Linked DNA regions of Homo sapiens. The protein of the gene in region 4 purifies or fractionates together with the protein of the main gene of each other region. This does not show direct contact. Each region holds a gene or a part of one and is shown on either strand. Other genes may lie near its edges.

Evidence for each region.
Region 1: the proteins of MPZL1 (region 4) and POLA2 purify together in Homo sapiens (affinity purification with mass spectrometry; one large-scale study listed by BioGRID and IntAct). This does not show direct contact.
Region 2: the proteins of MPZL1 (region 4) and IFIH1 purify together in Homo sapiens (affinity purification with mass spectrometry; one large-scale study listed by BioGRID and IntAct). This does not show direct contact.
Region 3: the proteins of MPZL1 (region 4) and CCT8L2 purify together in Homo sapiens (co-immunoprecipitation; one large-scale study listed by IntAct). This does not show direct contact.
Region 5: the proteins of MPZL1 (region 4) and ZNG1A purify together in Homo sapiens (affinity purification with mass spectrometry; one large-scale study listed by BioGRID and IntAct). This does not show direct contact.
Region 6: the proteins of MPZL1 (region 4) and TRDN purify together in Homo sapiens (co-immunoprecipitation; one large-scale study listed by IntAct). This does not show direct contact.
Region 7: the proteins of MPZL1 (region 4) and FTO purify together in Homo sapiens (affinity purification with mass spectrometry; one large-scale study listed by BioGRID and IntAct). This does not show direct contact.

The regions. Positions count from the first base shown.
Region 1 is NC_000011.10:65,278,962-65,282,461, forward strand, and holds part of POLA2 (DNA polymerase alpha subunit B), read left to right. Parts: intron 1-576; coding exon 577-665; intron 666-2,030; coding exon 2,031-2,186; intron 2,187-2,708; coding exon 2,709-2,771; intron 2,772-3,500. UniProt on the Homo sapiens protein: Accessory subunit of the DNA polymerase alpha complex (also known as the alpha DNA polymerase-primase complex) which plays an essential role in the initiation of DNA synthesis.
Region 2 is NC_000002.12:162,270,185-162,273,684, reverse strand, and holds part of IFIH1 (interferon-induced helicase C domain-containing protein 1), read left to right. Parts: intron 1-1,297; coding exon 1,298-1,459; intron 1,460-3,500.
Region 3 is NC_000022.11:16,590,251-16,594,310, forward strand, and holds CCT8L2 (T-complex protein 1 subunit theta-like 2), read right to left. Parts: upstream 2,561-4,060; 5' UTR 2,301-2,560; coding exon 627-2,300; 3' UTR 501-626; downstream 1-500. UniProt on the Homo sapiens protein: Possible molecular chaperone; assists the folding of proteins upon ATP hydrolysis.
Region 4 is NC_000001.11:167,763,482-167,766,981, forward strand, and holds part of MPZL1 (myelin protein zero-like protein 1 isoform a precursor), read left to right. Parts: intron 1-2,101; coding exon 2,102-2,268; intron 2,269-3,500. UniProt on the Homo sapiens protein: Cell surface receptor, which is involved in signal transduction processes. Recruits PTPN11/SHP-2 to the cell membrane and is a putative substrate of PTPN11/SHP-2.
Region 5 is NC_000009.12:165,557-169,056, forward strand, and holds part of ZNG1A (zinc-regulated GTPase metalloprotein activator 1A), read right to left. Parts: intron 1-3,500. UniProt on the Homo sapiens protein: Zinc chaperone that directly transfers zinc cofactor to target metalloproteins, thereby activating them.
Region 6 is NC_000006.12:123,630,451-123,633,950, reverse strand, and holds part of TRDN (triadin), read left to right. Parts: intron 1-3,500. UniProt on the Homo sapiens protein: Contributes to the regulation of lumenal Ca2+ release via the sarcoplasmic reticulum calcium release channels RYR1 and RYR2, a key step in triggering skeletal and heart muscle contraction.
Region 7 is NC_000016.10:54,116,656-54,120,155, forward strand, and holds part of FTO (alpha-ketoglutarate-dependent dioxygenase FTO), read left to right. Parts: 3' UTR 1-3,500.

The DNA.
Region 1 (3,500 bases), on a different chromosome or scaffold from region 4:
ACCACCTAGAAGGGTGTAGAGTAACAAAGCTTCAGCTAGGCTGGTAGAACAAGTTCCAAGGTTGCCTTTCAATGTATGAGTTGGTAGATGTCCTCATGGAAGCCCTAGTAATGGAGGGACACGGGCAATACTATCAGTGATTGCCCCAAGTCACTTCACTTTGCTAAAACGCACATAACCATTCCCAGCAGCAAAAACTTGAACGATGTAAAGGAATTCAACTTAAAGATATTCATGGTTCCTTCGTTAGAAGCCTTCTTCAGGTTGGCCTTGACTTGCCTAAAACCTCAGTGAGGACTTGAGTAAAGGGCAGACTTGGAGATGGGGTGGGGTTCATGCTGATTCCCTGGAATTGTGCTATGGGGTCTCCTGTGGCCAGATGGAAGGCCAGATTCAGCAACCAAATATCGGAAAATTGGCAAAGGTTTTAGAAGGTTTAAACTGGCCAGATGTCCAGGCACCCTTCCTGCTTCTGTAAAATGACTGACTTTAATATTTTACAATGTGCTGTATTTTCTCTTCTTGGCAAGTGAAATGTCTTAAACATAATACTTTTTTCCACTTCTGGGATTGTAGTTCTGACCTGTAAGATAGAAGAACTTGGCAGCGAACTCAAGGAACATTACAAGATTGAAGCTTTCACTCCTTTGCTAGCCCCAGCACAGGTAAGAGTTGTTCTAATAGTTCTCACTAATTAATATTACGTTTTTAAATCGATGACCAAGAGGCATCCTTCTTGCTTCCTTTTTCACTTCTTGTCTGTGTTCTAGTTTGAACATCTGTCTTGGTTGAATTTGGGAAAATGGGCCCTTCTGAAGAAAGATTTGTAAGTGCTGTCTGGTTTTGTGGCCAGAGAGTGATTTTCTTCCCACTTGGATTAGAGTCTTGCACATAAGCAGAGACTCAAGGCCTTGTTTCCCTTGGTGGTGAGTCAGGTAGCTCCCCGGGGATTTCCCACAAATAGAAGCATTCACGTATCGAGATAAAAGGACAGCAGCGACGGTGGGGTTTTCAGAATCTTGTTCTCTGGACAATGACTCACAGTCTCTCCCCTGGTTTGGTCTCTTGTTATAGACAAACTGCTGCCAATAGTATCTTTATATCATAGTTTAATCTGGCATATATACCAGTGCTTTCTCTCTAGAATGTTTTCTAATCTAAGGGGAAATATATTCTAGAAGTTTCTTTAAAGTACCTTTGTCAATGTTTACATTCAAAGAATGATCAGTTGGGGAAGTGATGCAGAACTGTGTCATAGAAGGAAGTGTTAGAGGACTTGGAAGGAAGTAATTGAGGGAAGGCAGGGAGGCACAATCACTGGGAAAGATGAGACTTCCTCTGTTTTCTCCCAAGAGTGGGAACAGAACAGAGGAAGCCATGGAGACAGAGATTTTAGCTCAATTAATAAAGAACTTCCTGTTAAGAGGTTGTATGGTATGTGGCTAAGGATATGGCTCTAGAGCCAAATTTCTGGTTTCAAACCCAAGCTTCACCCACAGTTTGACCTTGACTAAATTATCTAACCTTTCTGTTGCTTGTTTTCCTCATCTGTAAAATGGATACAGTAATATCCACCCGATGGTTGTTGCAAGGATTAAATGAGTTAATACATATAAAATGCCTAAGAATACATTTTAGAACAGTGCATGGTATTTAGTAAGCTCAAGAAATGTTAGCTATTATTAAGTAGTTATAGCTGCCCAAAGATGCAGTGGGCTGCCCTGGGGTGGTGAGGACAGGGTGGGGTAGGCATCCAGGGGCAAGTTCCCCTACACTAGAGATGCTCACACTTAGGCAGCCTCCTAGGAAGGCTCAAGTGCTGGGTGGATGGGTGGACAAGATGCCCTTTCAGAGTTCTTCCATCCTGAGAGTCAGTGATGACGCGGTAGTCACCTCAGGGTCAAAGCAATGCCCTGCCAAGAAATGTATTTGTTGTTTGCAGTTTGTTTTGCTATTCACCCTATCGACTTCAGATTTTGAGCTCCTGCTCCAAAGACTGTCATTCTTATGCTGTGACCTTCCTTTGGTAGGAGCCTGTCACTCTGCTGGGCCAGATTGGCTGTGATAGCAACGGGAAGCTGAACAACAAGTCAGTGATTCTCGAGGGAGACCGGGAACATTCCTCGGGTGCTCAAATTCCAGTGGATTTATCTGAGCTTAAGGAATATTCTCTGTTTCCTGGACAGGTGAGATTGGAGGAGTTCCACCAGAATGCAGGCGCACTCTTTACCCCTGTAGTGTAGGTGCTGTGCCATGCGCAGCTGCTCCTCAGTTCCTGTCTCTGCTGCCATGGGGTGCAGCTGGAGCACATGCCCCAGAGCAGACACCACTGTTGGGATTCCTGTTTCCCCCATGCTCTGACCCAGGCTCTGGGACCTGACTGCGCAGCCTCAAATCCCAACTCCCCGCTCCATGAGGTGCATGACTGTGCACAAGGTACTTAACCATCTAAACTACAGTTTCTTCACTCACAAAATGGAAATAATAATTCTTACCTCATAGGATTGTTGTGAAAATTAGATCACTTATATAGAGCATAATTATTATTACTAATGCAACGCCCTTAATTCGTTTTCTACAAAAATGCCCTAAGTTTATGATTACAGAATGAGAGTAGTTGGACAATGCTTTTAACTGCCTCAAAATAATGTATTCCAGACCTCATTGATCTCCACTGCTTAGCAATCCTGTTTGTTTTTGTCTTTCAGGTTGTAATTATGGAAGGAATCAACACCACTGGTAGGAAACTTGTTGCCACCAAACTCTACGAGGTACACAGCAGTACCCCCACTTGCCTCTTGGTTTGCTTCAGACAAAGTATGTCTGGAAGCTGTCTGTTCTAGAAACTGGTCCTTTTTAGGAGCCCATTTATTTGTTAGTCAGTTCTCCATCTGTAAGTGGGAACCCACCCCTAGGCCAGGGGTCAGCAAACCCTTTCTATAAAGGGCCAGACAGTAACTCTTTTAGACTTTGTAGCTATATGGTCTCTGTCACAATGACTCAATTCTGCCTTTGTCTACAAAAGCAGCCATAGAGGACTCTTAAACAGATGACTGTGGCTGTGTTCCCATAAAACTTTATTTAAATAGTGGGCTGCAGCCAAATTTGGCCCAGAGGCCGAAAGGTTACCTATCCCTGCTCTAGGCAACAATCCTCCAGAGATTTTCGTAGAATGCCAGGAAAAGTAGCAAGAAACCATTCTCTCCCATCCTTGCCTAGAAGTACACTGATACTTTAGGCACCTGTTTTGCTCCCACTTGTTGCTGGGTATTTTATGACAATTGAGTAGTGACCTCCCATTACCTGGGTTTCTTTGCCCTCTGAGCAGTATAGAAAAATGGCAGGTCCCATCAGATCCAGGGAGCAAGACAGAGGCACATCCTTCCCCTGCCCTCTCGCTCCTCCCCACTGTCCTCCCATCACACACCTGCACCACCCCCAACCTGGTGCCCTCCCCTTTCCTTACCAAGGTGATGCCTGGCGCAAGACCTTACTTGAGC
Region 2 (3,500 bases), on a different chromosome or scaffold from region 4:
AGCCTTTTTCCTGTTAAAAGAGCATTTTTAAAATGCTGTGCACTGTTGCCTTTCATATTGCTGTCAATTCATATAATAACCAGATACCTGTTGTATGTTTAAACAACAACTCCTCTTTAGCTATTTCTGTACCCTAAGGCTTTCCAGGACCATGACACTAGCCCCATTTGTAAGAGTCAAAAGCAGCCTCCTCTTTCCTAGGATGTCTGTGAGCCCCCAGCTGGACCAGGAATCTAAAGTACACTGTCCCACAAATGTCTGATGAAGTAACATGCCCAAACCTGAGGGAGCCCTGCTGTTTCTGCATTTTCTTCCCTTATCCTTTCCAATTTTCTGTGTGTTTAGAAGTTTTCATGATAAAATGTTGGTTGGGGGCAGACTTATAAATGTAAAAATAAATAAAAGAGTGAAATGTTCTGTTTTCATTCAGATTTCACTTTATCTCTTACCCACCTATGTTAATGGCATTATTGTAACCTGTTGAGTAGGCATAGGTGTTATGCTGATTAATAGATACACTATTCTTCCTATAAAATTAACTAAAGGGATTTTTAAATAACTTAAATTGCATCCTTGAATAAAAGGCAAGTCATAGAAGACTAAGATAACCAGACTGCCATCAAATTAGCAAATAATTTTATTTCAGGAGTCTATTTGTAAGTCAGTGATAAGCTTAGTAATCAAACTTAGAATACATTTTTCCTTGAGGATACTTTTATAGTTGATAGGCTCCTGGGCCAGGCCACAGAAGTTTCTATTAATCAAAATATACCTGAATATCACTTTCATAAAGAGGCTTGTAGAAAGTTATCACCATGTTAAATATGTTCCCATGGGAAAATGTGCTAAGAATGTAATGTAGGATGCCAGAAACTGACCTGCCTTCTCACCAGCCCTAGTGTCAAGGTCAGAGATGACCCTTCTCTCCATTCATTCCTCCCAGCTTCCTACCAAGAAAGACGACTCCTCAGTCCAAGTCATTGATCGTGGTTCTCATAGTTTGAGAGAGAAGTTCTGAGAGCAAAAAGCCTGGACAGGATGATATTATGTCATTGAGGCCTAACCATCATCACTCTAGAACACTTTTTCTGTATTAAAGCATATTATAAGTTTCAAAGAGCTGACTTACAAGTAATGGATTAATAACTAACTTTACTAACTTTACCCATTTGAAGACTGGCATGCTGAACAACCCAATATCATTTCATTCTGAGCAAGAATATCATTCCCAGAAAAAACCAGGAGGATTTGTATCACAACGTACCCTTTCATTTACTTGATTTATTTGTGTTTTCAGGCCCGTGGTCGAGCCAGAGCTGATGAGAGCACCTACGTCCTGGTTGCTCACAGTGGTTCAGGAGTTATCGAACATGAGACAGTTAATGATTTCCGAGAGAAGATGATGTATAAAGCTATACATTGTGTTCAAAATATGAAACCAGAGGAGTATGCTCATAAGGTATTGTTGGTCACCTCTGAATTTGATTTTCATTTAAAAATGGCGGCATGTGGTTGCCATTGATATCTCTGTGACTCATTCTCCAGACAAAAATTGTGCTGAATTATAAGTTTCTGTTTAGTGAACTGTGCTTAATCCAGATTCACATGCAGAGAATCAAGATCCATGGTGGGCAGGAAATTATCAGGGAGCCATTCCTCATTCCAGTAAAACCAACCATAAATTTGGATAATATAAATTTAGCCTGCCTTGTTCCAGAAAGACTGCTGCAACTCACTGATTCAATCCAACATGGTAATTTTGGTTTGATCCAATTTGTTTGTAAAGGCACAGTTTTTTAATTTCAGAAATGTAGATGAAACGCCTACTGTGTGCCAGGTAACCTTATAGGAACAGCCAACAGAGGAAACAAAACACATAAGACTCCTGCTGCACGAAGTTTATATTTCTAGTGTGTGCCTGGTGAAGTTTGGAGGACAGAAACAGTAAACAAACATTAAAAGACAAGAAATATAATATATCAAGATAAGTGAAGAGAATTAGAATAGGATGATATGAAACAACTGACTAGATGGATACTTTCTTGTTTTTAGTAGTTTTTGAAATTCTTTTTTTTCTTATTATACTTTAAGTTCTAGCGTACATGTGCACAACGTGCAGGTCTGTTACATATGTATACATGTGCCATGTTGGTGTGCTGTACCCATTTACTTGTCATTTACATTAGGTATTTCTCTTAATGCTATCCCTCTCCCCTCCCCCCACCCCACGACAGGCCCTGGTGTGTAATGTTCCCAGCCCTGTGTCCAAGTGTTCTCATTGTTCAATTTCCACCTATGAGTGAGAACATGCGGGGTTTGGTTTTCTGTCCTTGTGATAGTTTGCTCAGAATGATGGTTTTCAGTTTCATCCATGTCCCTACAAAGGACATGAACTCATCCTTTTTTATGGCTGCATAGACTAGATGGATACTTTCAACTGGGTGGTTGAGGAAGGTCTCTTAGAAGGAGTGACAGGGAAGCTGCATCTGAATGATAAGAAAATACAGAATATGTCATCTAGCTACATCTCAATTTACTAACACACAGTTATTTGAGTTGTGCAAAGGAATGCAGTGAAGAAAGAATGTATTTCTATAGTATTTCAGGAAATCCCCCATACCACTGAATTAAAAACTGTAACTACTATAATAGCAAACAATCCATTTAGAAGAAAATTCACACCCTTGCATATGGGTGTGAATGTTAGTTTCTTAACATTGGAATTGGCTCTACCTTAAATAGAGTTTCACTAAAGGGATGCTTTCAAATTGGTGTGCATTGCTATTACCAACTCCAAGGTTTCCTGACCAGGTTTCTGCACAAAACTTTATTTTAAAACCCCTTTAAATACAAGGCAAAGCAAATATTTTAGAGTATCAAATCAAACTTTTGTCACCAAATTATGCCACTGGAAAGTTACTGCCTCCCAGTTAATGTCCTAAGAGAATTAATCAAGTAGATGTTTACAAAGACTGATGTTTTAAGAGTAGTTTTTTGGGGGTCAACACTAGGACAATCTCTGGAGTTTAAGGGTCAAATTCTTCCAGACATTCTTTAGAATAAGACTCTGTCCCTTTGGGTGCCCCAGAATGGACTATATTTTTAGGTCTCCTTTGGCCAAGAAACCTGCCCTCCTAAAACTACTTCAGGTAGATGAACTTAGAGTAGGAGTGGCAATGGGGAAGGAGGGCTACATGCCACCAGTAATCTGTTCAAAGCCTGTAGAAAACATTGCTACTGGGAAGATGTTTACTTTCTTCTAATTTGAGCATCTTTCTCAACACAATCTTCAGACAACCACTAATGAATGATGAGAATTGACAGATAAGATGAAATCTTTCTTCCATGTCATAAACACAGTTTAAACATAACAGAGCTTCTTAAAATTAAATCAGACTTCTAGGAGCAAGTTGATCATCATAAATGTTTTTCTCTAGCATTGATTCAATTTTTTTGCTACATTATTACACTTTATTTGGACTTAGGCTGATTGTAGCTGT
Region 3 (4,060 bases), on a different chromosome or scaffold from region 4:
GAATGCTCAAATAGTTGGGAAGAGATTGCTGCACTGTGTTTTGCACGCCCAAAGCCCACATAGGTACTCAGTTTAAAAATCTTAATAGAATTGAATCCTGCTCTTATCATAGGAAAGGAAGAGCATCTGATAGAAACACAAAATGAAAAGGTCAAGAACTGGCTGGGCACAGTGGCTCTCGCCTGTAATCCCAGCACTTTGGGAGGCTGAGGCGGGAGGATCATGAGGTCAGGAGTTCGAGACCAGCCTGGTCAATATGGTGAAACCCCGTCTCTACTAAAAATACAAAAAATAGCTGGGCGTGGTGGCGCGCACCTGTAGTCCCAGCTATTCAGGAGGCTGAGGCAGGAAAATCGCTTGAACCTGGGAGGCGGAGGTTGCAGTGAGCCAAGATCACGCCACTGCACACCAGCCTGGGCAACAGAGCAAGACTCCGTCTCTCAAAAAAAAAAAACAAAAAAAGTCGAGAACTGGAAAGGAACTAAGCGCATGAAAAGAAATTTTATGTTCCTTCATGTTTTTATTTAAAGAAAGTGAATCAAGTACCAAACACGGAATAAAGGCAAACATTCATTTTTGGGGTGATTGTTCCCTTCTTGGCAATCCCTGTTTTATTGAGGGTATCACTAGTTATTCAATCCAAGGATTTTTTTTGTTTCCACAGGAGGTGGGTGTTTCTTTGTCTTCTTAGAGTCAGGATTCCAGATCTCCTGATGTGTGGGACTTTTCTTGGCCACTACGATTTCATCTACAGTCACGAGCTGTAGCACCACCTCAGCCACTGCTCGAAATCCTTGGGCTTTGACTATTAGGGTGTCCCACACCCCTTCCTGGGCCACATTTATTATCCCTTCAGTTCCCACACCCATTAGGAGGTTCCCACCTTGGTGCACTCCACTCATTTCTGCCATCACGTCTGAGACAGCTAAGCCTGCATTCTCTGCCAAAGTTTTAGGAAGATACTTCAGGGCCCAGGCAAATGCTAGGAATGCAGGCCCACTGGGCCCTTCCAATCTGCTTCCTTTATCAGAAAGCATTTTTGCCAAAGCCATTTCTGTGGCCCCAGCTCCTGGAATCAGTCTGGGATCTTGACATAGCTGGAAATAGGCATCAATGCCGTGGTAGACGGCCTGCTCTGCACTCCGCAGCCCCTGGGTGGTGGCTCCCCTGAGAACCACAGTGAGGGCAGGTGTGCCTGTACATTCCCATTCAAATACCACAGCCAAACCATCTCCCAGCTCCTGCCTGTAAACCCTCTGGCACTTGCCTGGCCTCTGGGGAGGGAGCAGACGAGGCAGCAGAGGTGTGTCCAACACCTCACTCAGGTAAATGATCTCCATCCAAGACCTAGCTTGAATCACCACGATGCCATACTTGTCCGCCAGTGTGAGGGTCTCCTCGTCGACCTCCCCCAACACCACTGCCACATTAATTCCTGCAGCTGCTAGCTGGCCTACTTGCTTTTCTAGTAATTGATCGCTTCCTTTACTAAATTGAGCTAGATCAGCAGGACTAGAAAGACGGGCCGTTGCTGGTGCATTTGGATGGGCAGGACCAAAGGGGCAAGCAAAGAGAGCCACCCTGGCACCACTTAACACTGTGGCCATTTGCCCACAGAGCTTCCCAGATATTGCTAACCCCGGGAGGAGGCAGGAATCCTCCAGTGTCCCCCCGGGCAGCGCGCACACCCCAACACGCTCAGGCTTGAAGCTGCCGTCTAGTTCCTTGATAGCCCAGCAGGCGTGGGCCACCAGCTTGGTCAAGTGGTCCATGGGGGACAGGGTGTGGGTATTCATCACAGAATGGAGGGCCCAGGATGGATCTTCCAAAGGCCCCAGAGATTGGATGGCCAGGGAGGGCAGTGTGGCCAGGACCTCTGCAGTGGCCGTGGCGTAGGCCTCCCGGAGCTGCGGGCGAGGCAGGCCAGCCTTCAGCAGCTGCTCTGCCTGTTCCAGCAAGGCTTCCGTCAGCAGAACCACGAAGGCTGTGCCGTCCCCACTATTCTCTGCCTGGGTTTGTCCTGCTTCCCGGAGGAGCCATGCTGCTGGGTGCTCCAGCTCCAGGGCCCTGAGGATGGCAGTGGCACACCCCGTGCACACTGTTTCTCCTTTCATGGTCACCAGGAACTTCTGCCGGCCGTGGGGGCCATAGCAAGGCCGGATGACACTGGCCAGGGTCTGGACTGCAGCCAAGCTGCTCAGCAGGTGGGGCTCCTCCTCTTCTGGACTCCTCGGGCTCTCCCTTGGGTTCAGTGCCAGCCGCTGGGGCAGCTCCAGGGCTGAAGGGACTGTGCTGTCCATGGCCCGCAGAGAGAGGAGAGGCCACCGTGGGTTGCAGAGATGCTCTAGAAACAGCAGCTGGGGCACTCCTGACACCGATCGTTGAAAGTACTCAAGAGGTCAGTGGAAGCAAGGAGCCAAATGCCCATTGATTGGTATCTGAAGACATCAGCACGGACCAGCACTCCACTGTGGGTCCAAGGATGAGCTCCAAAGAGCCCAGTCCTAAAGCCACCCCAGGGTTGATTCTGTAAAGGAACTGGGTCTTGGGGCCTCTCAACCTTGGTGGCTGAAATGGGATCTTTAACTGATGAAGTCACAAAGTGGAAAATGGAACCAGGATAGAGAATGAGGTCACAGAAGGCTGGTTAGAACTGAGGAGGCCCTACCAGCAGGCAAAAGTCAGGCCTTGTCCAGCAATGGAGGTACATGCACCTCTGCACCAGGTTTGAGACTTGTTTAAACGTAAGAGACAATGAGGAGGAGATCAAGTGAAAAACTACCCATTTCACCCTATCTGGAGTGCAGGGGCATAACCATGGTTCACTGCAGGCCCAGCTCCCTGGTCTCAAGCAGTCCTCCTGCTCAGGTTCCCAAGTACCTGGGACTACAGGCACACACCACCACACCTAGCTAGTTTTTTTATTTTTTGTAGAGACAGTGTTTCTGTCTGTTGTCCAGGCAGGTCTCGAATTCCTAGCCTCAAGAGAGCCTTCCACCTTGGCCTCCCAAAGTGCTAGGACTACAGGTGTGAGCCACCACCTCACCCACCCTTTTTTTTTTTTTTTTTTTGAGACAGAGTCACACTCTGTTGCCCAGGCTGGAGTGCAGTGGTACAATCTTAGCTCACTGCAACCTCCACCTCCCAGGTTCAAGCAGTTCTCCTGCCTCAGCCTCTCAGTAGCTGGGATTACAGGTGCCAGCCACCACGCCCGGCTAATTTTTTATATTTTTAGTAGAGATAGGGGGATTTCACCATGTTGGCCATGGTTGGCCAGGTTAGTCTCAAACTCCTGGCCTCAAGTGATCCGCCCACCTCGGCCTCCAAAAGTGCTGGGATTACAGGTGTGAGCCACTGCACCTGGCCTTTTTTTTTTATTTGAGAAGGAACTGAGAGATGATGTCTGTGTTTTGTTTTGTTTTGGTGTTACTTTCTCTTGCAGTACTGTGTAATATTAGCCATGTTTTGCTGTCTGCCTTTGACTTTTTGGGTATCTTATCAGTTTGTGCTTGTGTATCAGGTTTCTTAGGGTGTCTGTTGGTCTTTCAGGGTGCAGGTGTGGGAGGCTGCACAGCGTGCATGCCTGTGCCACGACTCCCAACTCTGCCTCCCTGGCAGAGGCAGGGCAAGACAAGTGGGGAAGGATGCTGACAGCTCACAGACAAATAGAAGTGAACCCAGAGGGGTGAAAAGCAACCAGCCTCCCAGCGGTCAGGGAGGTAGAAGCCTAAATGGGGTCCTGAGATTTAAATGCGAATCGCCTTCCCATCCTAACCTTCAATGCTTACAATTTAAGTCTCTTTTTTTCATTCTCTCTCCTTTCCTCACTTGTCTCCTCTTTCCTCCTATAGAGCCTACTCGGGTAATGATGCTTCTGCTTTAGTTTAACACATATTTAGTCTGGGCGTGGTGGCTCATGCATGTAATCCCTGCACGTTGGGAGGCTGAGGCGGGAGGATTGCTTAAGCTCAGGAGGTTGAGGCTTCAGTGAGCCATGATTGCACCACTGCATTCCAGCTAGGGCAACAGAGTGAGACTTGTCTCAAAAAAAATAGGGGAA
Region 4 (3,500 bases):
AAGATTGAGACTCGGTCTCAAAAAAAAAAAAAAGAAAGAAAGAAAAGAAAATCCTTGAGAAACTTTATTTATAGACTTTTAGAGACTGTGGCTTTCCAGTACTCATCACCATGGAGAAAACTAGTCAAAATCACACAGAGTGAATAAGGGTTGCAAGCCAGTGCTGCTTCCTGGAATAAGCTGGTCCACTAGTCTAGTCTTGTGCTTTGTCCTTCATTTTGAACTCAAGTGCCCTGGGGCTGCTTTTCTGCGTACCCACAATAGCAAGGAACTCTTTTGTTTGCATCTCCTCTGAAAGAAATGCTTGTTTTGAGGTTTGGACCGCAAATAATAATCTATTGTTCCCTGTAATAATAATCCACCCTCTTTCGCAGAAAAAAAAATCTGCTTGATGCAGTATGGCTATCAGTTTATTTAAAAGAATAGCCAAAAGTGCCCATTATGTCCTGAGAATAAACATTTGCAAGATGGTTGGGAGGAATGGGGGAGTACTCTTGTTCTCCTTGGCTGAGAGTCAGTTAAGTCTTCAAGGAGAAAAAATTCTGAAAATGACCATCAGTCCTGGCTGACAATACTCTTCCTTATTCTGCCCGTCTGTTACATTCTAAGAATTATTGCAACACTGCAGATATTTATTCCAAACGATTTCTTTAAAAAATATGGAAGATGGGTATTTTTAAGTTACCAATTTTGGGCCAAATAAGTTTTTTTTTTCTGACTTTCATTTTGTCTGTGAAAGCATTTCTTTTATAGCAGTATGTTCAAATTAGCAATCTTTAAGAATTTGGCAAATACTTTTAACAGCAATCCTTAACAATTCCTGCAGTTGCCTACTATTGCAGATCTTGAAAAAAGAGCCATTTTTATATTCTAAGTGGTAGACACATTTCAATTACTATTTCCTGGGCTTAGGCTAACTGACAAAACTTGATGGGTGAAATGAAAATGTGATATACGGTGTAATCAGCTGTTTACTTACCTAGCACAGTGAAATCTTATGGTAGGTATGATTGCACTAACAAAACCAAAACATGCATTTTTCTTCCTTAAGTTCTTTATAAGAAAAGGATCAGTTAAATAATAAATGTGGCTTTAAAATGAAGTTATATCTTAGGATAGTTTTAATTGCATTACATATGGATGATGAGAAAAGTTCAGTGTGATAACAATTGCGTAACAGATAAGCATGAGAACTACTTAAAGAAATAAAAATATGCCCATCACCTCATTAAAAATAGACCATCAGGGAAGCCACCAAGAAGTCCTTCAGTAGGTGAATGAATAAACTGTGGTACATCCATACAATTTGTATATTATTCAGCAATAAAAAGAAATGAGATATTATGCCACAAAAAGACACGGAAGAAAGTTAAGTGCATATTACTAAGTGAAAGAAGGCAACCTTAAAAGGCTACATGCTGTATAATTTTAACTAGATAACATTCTAGAAAAGGCAAACCTATAGAGACAGTATAAGGTCAGTGTTTGCCAGGGGTGTGGGGGGAAGGACGGCAGGAATAAATTGGTGTAGCACAGGGGATGCTTAGGGAGTGAAACTATTCTGTATGATACTGTAATGGTGGAGACGTCACTATTCACCTTTGTCAAAATCCATAAGATCTACAACACTAACACAAATCCTAATGTAAACTATGGACTGTGGTTAACAATGATGTAACCATATTGGCTCATCAATTAAAACAAACGTATAACACTAATGCCAGATGTTAATAATAGGAGAAACAGGTTGGCCATGGGAGAGTGAGGGAATATGAGAATTCTACCTTCTATTCAATGTTTCTGTAAACCTGAAACTGCTCTTTAAAAAGTCTATTAGTTTAAAAAAAAAATTCAATATAACCAGACTAATAAAAATATCTTAACTAAAAAGCAATACAAACCTAAACTGTCAGCAATTATTCTGTTTATAGTGCTATTCTGATTGAACTTAGCTGTAGAATATTCTGCCAGAAATATGTAATGGCAGTGAATTACTGTATATATCTAGTAACTTTGCTGTATCTTTTCTTGTCTGGCAAAAATGCACAGTGGTATTCATGTTAAGTCCTACTTTCAACTACCCTTATTCCTTTCTCTTCAGTGACAGCTGGAGTATCAGCCTTGGAAGTATATACGCCAAAAGAAATCTTCGTGGCAAATGGTACACAAGGGAAGCTGACCTGCAAGTTCAAGTCTACTAGTACGACTGGCGGGTTGACCTCAGTCTCCTGGAGCTTCCAGCCAGAGGGGGCCGACACTACTGTGTCGGTAAGAATGCTTGACTTCTCTTGGCTAGTCCTGCCTCACAGGTTTCTTTACTGCTGTATAATTGGTGATCCATTTTTCTGATGGTTCATTTCCAAAATGAGTGTATTTTTTATCTGTTATAGACTTCAAGGCCCTTCTTTTGCTTCAGGATAAAATAAGTTCAGCATCTCTTAAATGCGTCTGGTTTCCTTGTCTTTGATCAGTTCCTCTCCACCATCAAATCCCATTCTGAAATTGATCTTAATTGACCACACTGACTCTAATCAGGATTTATCCTGCATCTTTTCATCTTTTATTGCCCCATATTTATTGATATTTGTTTTATGTATTATCAAATTTTATATATATATGTATGCATCTTCTGATTTGATTATCTTTTTTTAATTTAGCGTATAGTCCATCTGATTTAGCAATATTGATTTGGGAGCTTACTATGTAGTGGGTTATGTAGGGCCTTCAAAAATGTCTAAAACAGAATCCTTGCTCTCACCTAGAGATGATTAGGAGGAAGGCTGATATATAGATGACTTTGGAGTAAGATAAAGGATGTAACAGAAATACAGCACCAGAGCATTGAAAAAAGGTTATTTAGTAACTAGTGGAGTGCTGGTTATTAAACATGAACTGACTATCTTGGTTCTGGTCTGTAAAATGGAGACGATAAAACCTCCCACACAAGGGTGTTAGGAGGATAAAGTAAGATTATTCAAGATAAGTGCTCAGGAGAGTGTCTAGCTCTTGAGTTACTAAAATACACCATTTGTTGTTACTGTTGCTCTCCCAGCATGTGGAATGCCCTTCATATATTGGCACATATTTTAGTACTGTTGCATGTTTCAGGTTGTCAGTGTTTAGCAAGGACAGTCTGTCATCTATCTTTAAGAATGCCCAATTCTTCTTCTGAATGGTGAGTTACATTGTTGATCACCACCTAGATGTTGGGCCCATCATATGCCTATGCCATTTAATCTTCACAGCTCTATGAGGAAGACAGGGTGGGGAGGATGGGAGACACTGACTCAAGAGTTATTCACCTGTGGCCATACCACACAGGTTAGAATTGTTTAAACTTCAATACGGTATGATTTCCCTTATGTATTATTTCTCTCTCAGGTAGAAAAATCTGCTAATAATATTTACGGCCTCATAGGTTTTAGGGATTACCTAAGGCAGTGCTTCTCAGTATTTTTTAAAATTTATTTTTAAAAGGAGCCTTTTCACATTTTTCTTAA
Region 5 (3,500 bases), on a different chromosome or scaffold from region 4:
CAGGGAATATTTGGCAATGTCTGAAGATGTTTTTGGTTGTCTTAACTAGGGGAATGCTACTGGCATCTAGTGGGTAGAAGCCAGGGATGTTGTTAAATATCCTACTCTGCACAGGGCAACCCCCTCACAACAAATAATTATCCAACCCAAAATGTTATTTGTGCTGACACTGAGAAAACCTGAACTACATTTTAGAATCTCCCTTCTTCAAAATCTAATAAAACAAAAAATAAAAACAAAAAATAAAACAAAAAGGCCAACATTTTATTAGCAGCAACCAAATATAAAAGGGCCTGCCATAAATTTTGAAGACTGATAGTCAAAATAAGAAACAAAGTTATATGTGATTGATGGTCATTCCCAACTCTACCCCTACCTCCAATAAGAGGTTGTAGGGAAATAGTTTACAAAATCCTAAACACTTACCAGAAATACACTCCAAAATGACAAAAAGTAGAGCCGAGGAATGAATAAGCAACACAAGGAAAAGTCAACAAAAAAATTTCAAGAGTGAGTTTTAACCATCTCTTTGCTTTGGGAAGGAGAAGGTCAGGTCACATTCTAGGGCTCAGAACAAAGAGAAATGAGAGCTCTGAGGTCGAATGATGTCCCCATACAAGGCAAAGGAATTTTATTCATAAGCAGTTGGGCAGACCCAAGAGTGAAATACTTGGTACTTCAAGAGAGCAGAGCCTAAAAGCCACATTGCCCCATTTGGCTCTCTGAATCACCACTTTTCCCTTCTCTTTCCCTCCACTCCAACAATATACAGCTTTCAAACTAGGGCTCAGGAGAAAAACAAACTTGGGTAAGGAGAGTGGAGTATTAAAAATATTTCCCATCAGCACCACATAGAAGTTCTCCCACATCAAGAAGAAACATGTATGCATATGTATTACAGCCTGACAAAAAGAAACACGCACATACAGGGAATAAAAAGCAAGAAAGAACACAAAATGAAGAAATGAATAGGGCACACAAGTGGCAAAGAACCCATTCTGGAAGGATACATAACCCAATAAAAACTAAAGAAAATTCTCAACAACTTCATCATAATGAAGAACTTGAAAACAATACAACCTTATAATAAACAAGCTCAAAAGCAAGAAGAAGCAGAATAAGATGAAAATGCGTTTGTAGCGCTAAAGAAACTTAGAGCCTATATAACACAATGACTTAACCAATTAATTCATTTAAAATATCAAAAACAGGACAGACACTGGAGAAAACAGAATTATTGACAAAAAGAAAGGCTTCAGATGATCACAGTAAATGCAAAGGTAAAAGACAAATCAAAGCAATTAGAATACATACGAACAACAAAAGAAAATTCAGTATTAAAAAAACTGGTGTCATGAAGTAGAGGATCTAATAATTTGACCAAAAAAAAGTATTCATGGTAATAAACAAGGAAAATGTTCTTAGAAGAACTAAGGGCATACTATAATTTAGGGAAAAATGATTATAAGTGACACTTAGATATACCTTGTTTATATTACTGAATTTCAAAAATAAAGAAGAAAACTCTCAGGCATTTTAGATTAAAAAAAAAAATTGCCTTCAAGGAGGTAGGGAGAAAAATCAGACTTTTCTACAGTAACACTAGATGTCCCAAAATAATAAAACAGGGACCACAAAGTTCTAATGAAAGTGTTCCCAAACAAGTTATTTTTCAGGAACGAAAGCAATAGACAGACATTCTCAAGCATTAAAGAAAACAGCAAGCATTGAAACTCAGAGACTATAATACTCACAAATTCTTCCTAATAAAAAGAGAAAACATTGGACAAAGAAATCCAGCCAATCAAACACTAGGAGATTATGGAACAACATTTACAAAGTTGAGGGGGAATAAAGTGTGACTGATAAATTTTATACCTAGCCAAGTAATCCTTCAAGTAATATAAAAACAAAAGACAAATATTTTGAATCAATGAAGTGTATAAGAACCCAAAGAATGCATGCAGTACCTGTAACTTGAAAAGACTGCCTGACAATGAAATTCAATCAGGAGATGGACTAACTCGGGAATGGAGAAGCAACAGTACTGGTAATAAGCACCAAAACTATTAAAACATAGAACTAAAAGAATTATGACAGAACCATGACAACATAAAGAATATGATCAACATGAAACTAGGCCAATTAATATCCTACAATGGCCTGTAAGTGTTCAAGTGAAAGGAACAGTCACCTGTTTCTCACTTTAAATCAAGAGCTAGAAATGATTATGCTTAGTGAGGAAGTTATGTTGAAAGCCAAGATACGCCAAAAGCTAGGTCTCTTGAGCCAGTTAGCTAAGTTGTGAATGCAAAGGAAAAGTTCTTGAAGGAAATTAAAAGTGCTACTCCAGTAAACACACAAATGATAATAAAACAGCCTTATTGCTGATATGAAGTGGTCTGGATAGATGATCAAACAAGCCACAATGTTCCCTTAAGCCAAAGCCTAATTCAGAGCAACCCTAACTCTCTTCAGTTCTATGAAGGCTGAGAGAGGTGAGGAAGCTAGAGAAGAAAAGTTGGAAGGTAGCAGAGGTTGGTTCACAAGATTTAAAGAAAGAAGCCATCTCCATAACATAAAAGTGCAAGGGAAAGCAGCAAATGCTGATATAGAAGCTGTAGTAAACTACCTAGAAGATGTAGCTAACATCATTCATGAAAGTAGCTACACTAAGCAACAGACTTATTTTTTATTTATTTATTTATTTATTTTGAGATGGAGTCTCGCTCTGTCACCCAGGCTGGAGTGCAATGTGCAATCTCAGCTCACTGCCACCTCCGTCTCCCGGGTTCAAGCCATTCTCCTACCTCAGCCTCCCAAGTAACTGGGATTACAGGCTCCCACCACCAAGCCAGGCTAATTTTTGGTATTTTTAGCTGAGATGGGGTTTCACTATGTTGGCCAGGCTGGTCTTGAACTCCTGAACTCGTGAACTGCCCACCTCGGCCTCCCAAAGTGCTGAGATTACAGGCATGAGCCACCGAGCCCGGCCAGCAACAGATTTTTAATGGAGATGAAATGGCCTCCTTTTGGAAGAAGATGCCATTTAGGACTTTCATAGCTATAGAGAAGTCAATGCCTGGCTTCAAAGATTCAAAGGACAGGCTGACTCTCTTGTTAGAGGCTAAAGCAGCTGGTGACTTCAAGTTGAAGCCAATAATCATTTACTATCCTAAAAATTCTAGGGCCATTAAGAATTATGCTAAATCTCCTCTGCCTGTTTTCTATAAATAATAAAGCCTAGATGACAGCACATCTGTTTACAGCACGGTTTAGTTTAAGCCCACCATTGAGATCTACTGCTTAGAAAAGAAAAGATTCCTTCAAAATATTATTGCTCATTGACAACGCACCTGATCACCCAAGAGCTGTGATGGAGATGTACAAGATTAATGTTGTTTTCATGCCTGCTAACACAACATCCATTCTGCAGCCCACTGATCAAGGAGTAACTTTGACTTTTAAGTCTTATTTAAGAAATATATTTCATAAGGCTA
Region 6 (3,500 bases), on a different chromosome or scaffold from region 4:
AAGGCTCATACAGATTATATGACTGTCTCATGGTCATGGGAAATTAGGAGAGATCTGAGGATAAATTTCATGCCTCCCATGGCTCATCCCAGTGCTTATTCAACTACAGTGCATGTCGTGCCTATAACCTCACCTAGTTGCTCACATCAATTTCCACTGCAGGTTCCAAGCTGGCTTACTTCATCCAGTGGAAGAAAGGAAATAATGCTAAATACAGAATTGTGTTTCAGGTACAGAGTAATAGATAAATTAGAAATAGGACAAAGTTGAACTCCAAAGGATTTTAGGGTAATAACACCTTTGATTCTGGCAAAATAAATTAATAAAGATAATTATAACAGCAATGATAACATATTTATTCTGAAGACATAAGATGTCAAGCACTGTATTAAGCTTGATAAATATTCATTTAATCTTCAGGGCCACCAAATGAGAATAAAGGCTAATATTATTGCTGTTTAGAGAATAGGAAGCTGAAGTTGAGAGAGTTTAAAGAATGTGCTAGAATTCACACAACTGTATGTGATATAGCTAGGATTCATACCCATGCCTGACCACAGAGTCATATTGGATATGTCTTCTTACTGTGTGAGACTGTTAGGTTGGTCAATTAGGTTGTTATTGGAGCCTACACTAGGACCATGTTACATTTAGGTAGGTTGAATCAGGCCCAGACTGGATTACACTCAAACAGCACACAGGTTTAGGGCTATAAACAGTCCTTTATCTTCCTTGCAATGTAATGTATCCAAGTTGCTGGGAATCCCATATATAATTAACTTAGTATTTACTAGAACGCTTAGTTCAAGAAAGCTTTTTATTTAAAATGTTAGAAGAGCTTATATCCAACTCTCAACTTATAAACTATTACATAACCTCAGGCTTCAGGAGAAGAATTATTGCACTATGTGTGGAATTCTTTCCTTACCATTAGCCGAATCACGTTTCACTGCTTCTGTAACAATCAAACCTATGAGAAGATTTGATATTCAAAATTTAGAGCAAAAATGGTCATTTATATTCTACACACTGCATTACTCCCATAGAGTCTGCAGCACAAGATTACTCACTATTGCTCTCAAGAAAAAAAAAAAATCAAGAATTCACAGCCAGACTACTTAACAACTAGGCAAACAAGTTATATCATCTAGCATGACAGATGGTGAAATTATGAGGCGATCCAACCTATGTTTCTGCATTTACCTCATCAAAGCAAAGGGCAGCTGCCCTGGCTTAAGCGGGGATGAGCTGGGGGTACAAAGGGATGTAGCACTAGTTTCAAGCCCTGGTCACTTCCAGGAGATGTTCTTGATTTTCCTGATAAAGCAACATACCACATATATTATTTTTAGTCTTATAAGTACATTTTAAAACTGACATTAGAAAGCTAGCCTATTCAAAAGAGGAGTACCACGATGGTGAAAGGCACAGTTAAATGAAAAGATTTGTGCATGGTTTGTTTAAGTAGAAGACTGGATTTTTTCATTATGTAGCACTTGAGGGCAATGCACAGACCCATGGATAAAAGTCTGGAAGTCACAAAAAAGGCACACTATTGGCAAAATACAAGGCAAAACCCAACCAACCATTAAAATGATAGCTAGAACTGACTCTTCTGACTAGAAAGAAAGAAAAGAGAAAGCAAGAAAGGAGGGAAGGAAAAGGAAATACACAGCCTCCAATTTTTAAGAAATAGAGGGATGAGGAATATGCCAAAATCTACACCATAGTAGGCAGTAGGCTCTGGGAACCTCTACAGTACAAACAACCCAGTTACTTCAAATAAGTTCCTGGGAACAAGAACAAGAAAATCTGGAGAACAGATGAAAAGAAATGTAAAAAGTTAGCAACCCATCACAATGTATGGAATGGTTGGATCATGATTCAAACAAACAACCTTAAAAAATTCTGATGAAACAAGTGAAAATTTAATATACTCTGGATGTTAGATAACCTTAATGAATAATTATATTTTTAGTGGGATAACCGTATTGTGGTTGTCTTTTAAAATTACTTATTATTTGGAGATACACATTCAAATATTTATGAAGGAGGTGATGTGATATTTGAAATTTGCTTCTAAATAATATGCCCAAGAAGAAAGTAGTTGGGGTGTGGGTGGGGTAGGATTGGCCATTAGTTGATTATGTTGAGGCTGATAATGGGTACATTAAGTTTCATTATAATATTGTCTACTTTTGGGATTATTTAAGCTTCTTCACAATAAAGAGTTAAGAAAAAAAACAGAGTTGATGTTGTTAGTAGAGTAAATCTTTTAATAAGAATTTAATTTTCATAACATATATGGGTCAGTGAATTCTCTGGTCACCAAATTTATTCGTAAGTGCAAATTACTCTCTAAATTGAACAGTGTCTGTTGTTACTGAAATGAAAACCAAATATGCTCATATTAAGCAGAGTAGTCTGGAAATATACTTATGTTTGTAAAAGCAGACAAGGAAGTAATCATTTTTAATATCTATTATAATATGGGAATCTGGAGGTTAGTTTCATATTATTGGTAACATTAATTAGAGACATTAATTAGAAATAGTTTGTTTTTGAGATAGGTCATGGGAAAACCTGAGAACAATTTGAAAGCCTAAGAAGTCAACATGATGCAAGAAAAAATAGTTCTAAAAAGTGCTATGGCTTGGAACATTGCATTTATTGACAGGGTATTAAGTATGAAGCTTTTGTATGACTATCTCTTTGAAATATCACAAAAACTGTGAAAGGCAGGTATCACATAAACCTGATTAGTCTGACTCTGAAACTTCTTGTTATTCTTTACTGCTCAAGTTCACTTTAGGAAAATAGAAAAAAAAAAAAAAGCAGATTGTGAAAACCAGGAGAGTATAGTTCACTGAAAATCAGAGAGAAAATATAGTGCAGAGCTGGGAGAAAGAAGCATTAAGAAAAGAGAGTGTGATAGAGTAGTAAGTGCATGGAGTTTTACTTAAGTCAGAAATTGGGGTTCAGGCACTATCTCCACTACTCAACCACTCTTGGTCTGGGGAGGATGGGGCCTCAAAAGAAGGGTCATGAACTTGGTTAATTAAAAATAATATGGCCAGAGGAATTTTTAAAAATTTTACAAGATCATGCTATTTGGCAAATTAAGTTTATGTTTTTTAAATTGTTCAAATCATCCATGATACAAAATTTGCAGTGACAATGAGCAGAAAATATAGCTGTGTAGTGTCAGCCCTTGTTAGGTTCCGTTAAGAAGCTTTTTCTTGTAGTTTTTATTATTATTTGTAATAGGAACTATTTTTCTCCCCACCCCATAAGCACATAGTATCCATGAAAATGTTCCGTTTATGAGCTTAAATGTTTCTTATTTTTTTTCCTATTTATTTTTGGTTATCATTATGACTGTAATTTAAAATTCATGCTACTTTTACAATGCAAAAATGAATTGAGGCTATTCAGTTATTATACTAAAGGCTTAGGAATCCATAGAGACTTAAGGCCTCCAATACTGTTGGCATTAATTT
Region 7 (3,500 bases), on a different chromosome or scaffold from region 4:
GCAAGACAGCAAGGGCACCCCTGGGCCACTGCTGTGTTTGGGAGGCAGGTTTTGGGGGTTGTCAGAAGGCATTCACCTGGTTCTCTCGCTCACCTGAGACACCCGATAGATTCCTGGAAACTCCAGGAAAGTATCTGAAGATCTGGTTCTCCATTCTCTCTTATTAACAAGGAGAACCACAAGTGCCCCCCAGATCCCGGCTAGAAGGACCAGACAGCTTTCCACCCCGGTTCCCAGGCAGCCCTGCTCCCATAGTCCTGTGTCCCATCGGCCCCATGCTCCCAGGACAGTCCTAATTCCCACCTCTCAGAACCTTGTCAGCCAAGTTCTTCCTGCTCTCTGGCCCAAATCCTCCTCCTACATTGGAAACTGAGCCTCTCTGCATCCTCTGCTCTTTCTATCCCGCTGTCATTCATCAGATTTTCCAAATCTTTGGATTCCTGAGTGGCAGAAGAGGTTTTCTGAGTTTAAGTTCTGATTCTGTGTGTGATTCTCACTCTACCACCTCTTCAAACCTTTGTTGTCTTATCTACAAAATAGAATAGTAGTAATCCATCACCTAAGGTTGTTGTGAAGGTTCAATAAGTTAATGCGTATTTAAAATGCCTCCCACAGTACCTGACATATACTGGGCTTCAGTGAGGTACTAGCTATTATTATTAACCAAGTTTCCTGTGGTAACAGTTGTAGCTTTGTGACTGGGCCAAATCACTTAACCCCTCTGCGCTCCAGTCTTTGTTTCTATAATGGGGATGATGATAATGCCTAGCTCATTGGATTGTTCTGTCCCCTACGATCAGCCATGTTAAGTGATTCATATCATGTCTGGTACTTAAAAATCACGCCACGCATGTACATTATTATGATGAAAAATATGATCCGTGATATCCTGACCAAAATATTAAAGGGACTAAAGATAGCTGTGGCTTGTTCAAGAAGAATATTGTGTCACTATCCCATATATTATCCCATTTGCTCTTCACAGCTTCCATTTTTCGCTAGGCGGATGGCATGGAACTTTTTATAAATGAGATATTATGAAAAATGATGTTTTAGGACTCTCATTTCTACAGTGGGAGTAGGTCACCCATTGCAATTTTGGATTTGCTTAAAAAAATTCTTGCCATCACCTTCTAATGGATGATCTGTGTACAACAATTGTTTATTGACTCTGAATGTCTAAGTACCAGGGTCAGTCTATTTCAAGGGGAGGGAAGCATTAATTAACCTCCAGCATTAGATTCAGTGATTCTTTTCCAATGATGCAGTTCATGACTTTGCTCGCATTTACTTTTCATCAATCCTGAAAGAATTGAGGTAAAATAGTTCCTCTGCACATGTGTGTCAAGCTAAATGGATAACAGCAGATACAGATCTGTTTGCCTGTCTGCACTTGCCTTTAGACAAAATTCATCAATTTTACAAAAGCCACTGACTAAACATGGCACCAATACAAATGAAGCACTTCTAGCAGGCGGAGATTCCCTTTGTTTCTGATCTGGTAAATGCGGTAGTTTCCTGCTGAGAGATGGGAAGTGCTGGCCTAGGACAGCAAGGTGCCCTACAGGTGGGGCCAAAAGGGTCAAGACCGTTCTACAGGAAGTTTAGGAGAAGTTCAATGGTTCCAGATCCTGTGTGCTTCGGGTAATTCTGACCCTCTTCATTAGTGATAATGGCATGAAGCTCTTTCACACAGTCTTTTTTTTTTTTCTTTTTTTTTTTCAGACAGGGTCTCACCCTGTCACGTAGGCTGGAGTGCAGTGGTGAGATCACGGCTCACTGCAGCCTCGACTTCATGGGCTCAAGCGATTCTCCTGCCTCAGCCTCCTAAGTAGTCGGGATCATAGGCACTTGCCACCACATCCGGCTAATTTTTTTGTAGAGACAGGATTTCACCACATTACACAGGCTGGTTTCAAACTCCGAGGCTCAAGTGATCTGCCTGCATCGGCCTCCCAAAGCGCTGAGATTACAAGCGTGAGCCACTACGCCTTGCCCTCCACACAGCCTTGCTTGGTGTTAAAGATTAAACAAAGACCACAGGTGATCACTGTCTTCGTGGTGCCAGTTTCAAGGGCACCCTTCTTCCCTTCCCAGCCTCCGAGAGAAGGAGAGAGGGTCCACAAGCCAGATCCATCCCCATCCACACAGGTAAAACCACGACTGTGCAGCTAGCAGGTGGAGATAACATTTGGAAAAAGGCTTTGTAAATGCTAAAGTCCTACTCAAGTCCAAGGGAGAGAAATTATTATTATTCGTTTTGTGAAACCAATTTAGTTTGGCTGGGTAATGGAAGAATTTCTACATACATTCATTACTTCTGATCAGGCAAGACCAGTCTGACACAGGAACAGTCTATGGCTCACTCTTAAAGCCACAGCAGGCTGCCAGGGCTTGGAGAAATAGAAACCTCTCTTGCACAAGAATAGTCTCAATGAATCATGTTAAGGCCTCTTTAGGTTTTTCAGACTCCATGCACCCTGTGGAAACTGCCTTTCTTGAGTAGAGGTACGTTCAGCACTTCATAAAATAATCTTGGAGCCTCCAGACACACGGATGGAGGAGCATGATTTCATTTGTTTCTTTGCAAAACTGCTGTCCCCAACTGAAAAACCTGATTATCCTTTCAAATAGGGAATTCGGCTTTCCACGTTGGAACCAGAACAGTTAACCTTCAAACCCCCAAGGCTTGCAAGAGATGAATCAGTTTCTCAGACAGCCAAAGCCGTGGCTTATAACTCATCCAACCCAGAAAACTGGACCGCTGGTCACCTTCCTTCCCCCTGCCCCCAACTCTGCAGACAGAGGTTTCCCGTTGATTATGCCTTGATTAGAGTCAGGAGAGAAGCAAACCAGGTATATAGGATTCCATTATCCTTCCCTCCTCTGCTCCCAACCAGGGTCACGCTGAGAGGGATCTCGGTGAACATGTGAACAATCAAGCCATGTTTACCATGGACGTTTAGTTTTCTTTTCTCAAAATCAAAACAGAGTTTAGTAGGCAGCGTATTTCATACATGCCCCTTGATCAATGGAATGATCTGTCAGAAGCCATTAAAGCCCCCATTAGCTTGAATGCATTCAAAGCTAAACTATTGGATCATTTAAGGGCTGCAGTGATTGTTTTTAATATACCGTACATTGATTTCTCCCTGTGAGCAGCAACATAAGTTTGAAACTAACTGTGTATGACTAAGGCTCCATTTGCTGTCTCCAACCCTCTGTGAGAAGCATGGTTTCACTTCGACCAGAAATGTCTGTGTATAGTTTTCAAAGAGATGCAGACCCTGTTCGATTTCCCAAGATTTAGACTGGGTCGGGTTGTTATTTCTTTTTTCCCTGAGCTTTCTCCCATTTCTTTGTGCCCATTAAGTGAGCTGTGCGTGCAGAATGGGAGAGGCATCCCTGCCAAGGACTTCAAGTGAAAGGCGGTGGGAGAAATTGTTCTGAAAGCATGAAGCCCAGCTGAGGCCAAAATCAAAGTGAATTTGACAGCCTTG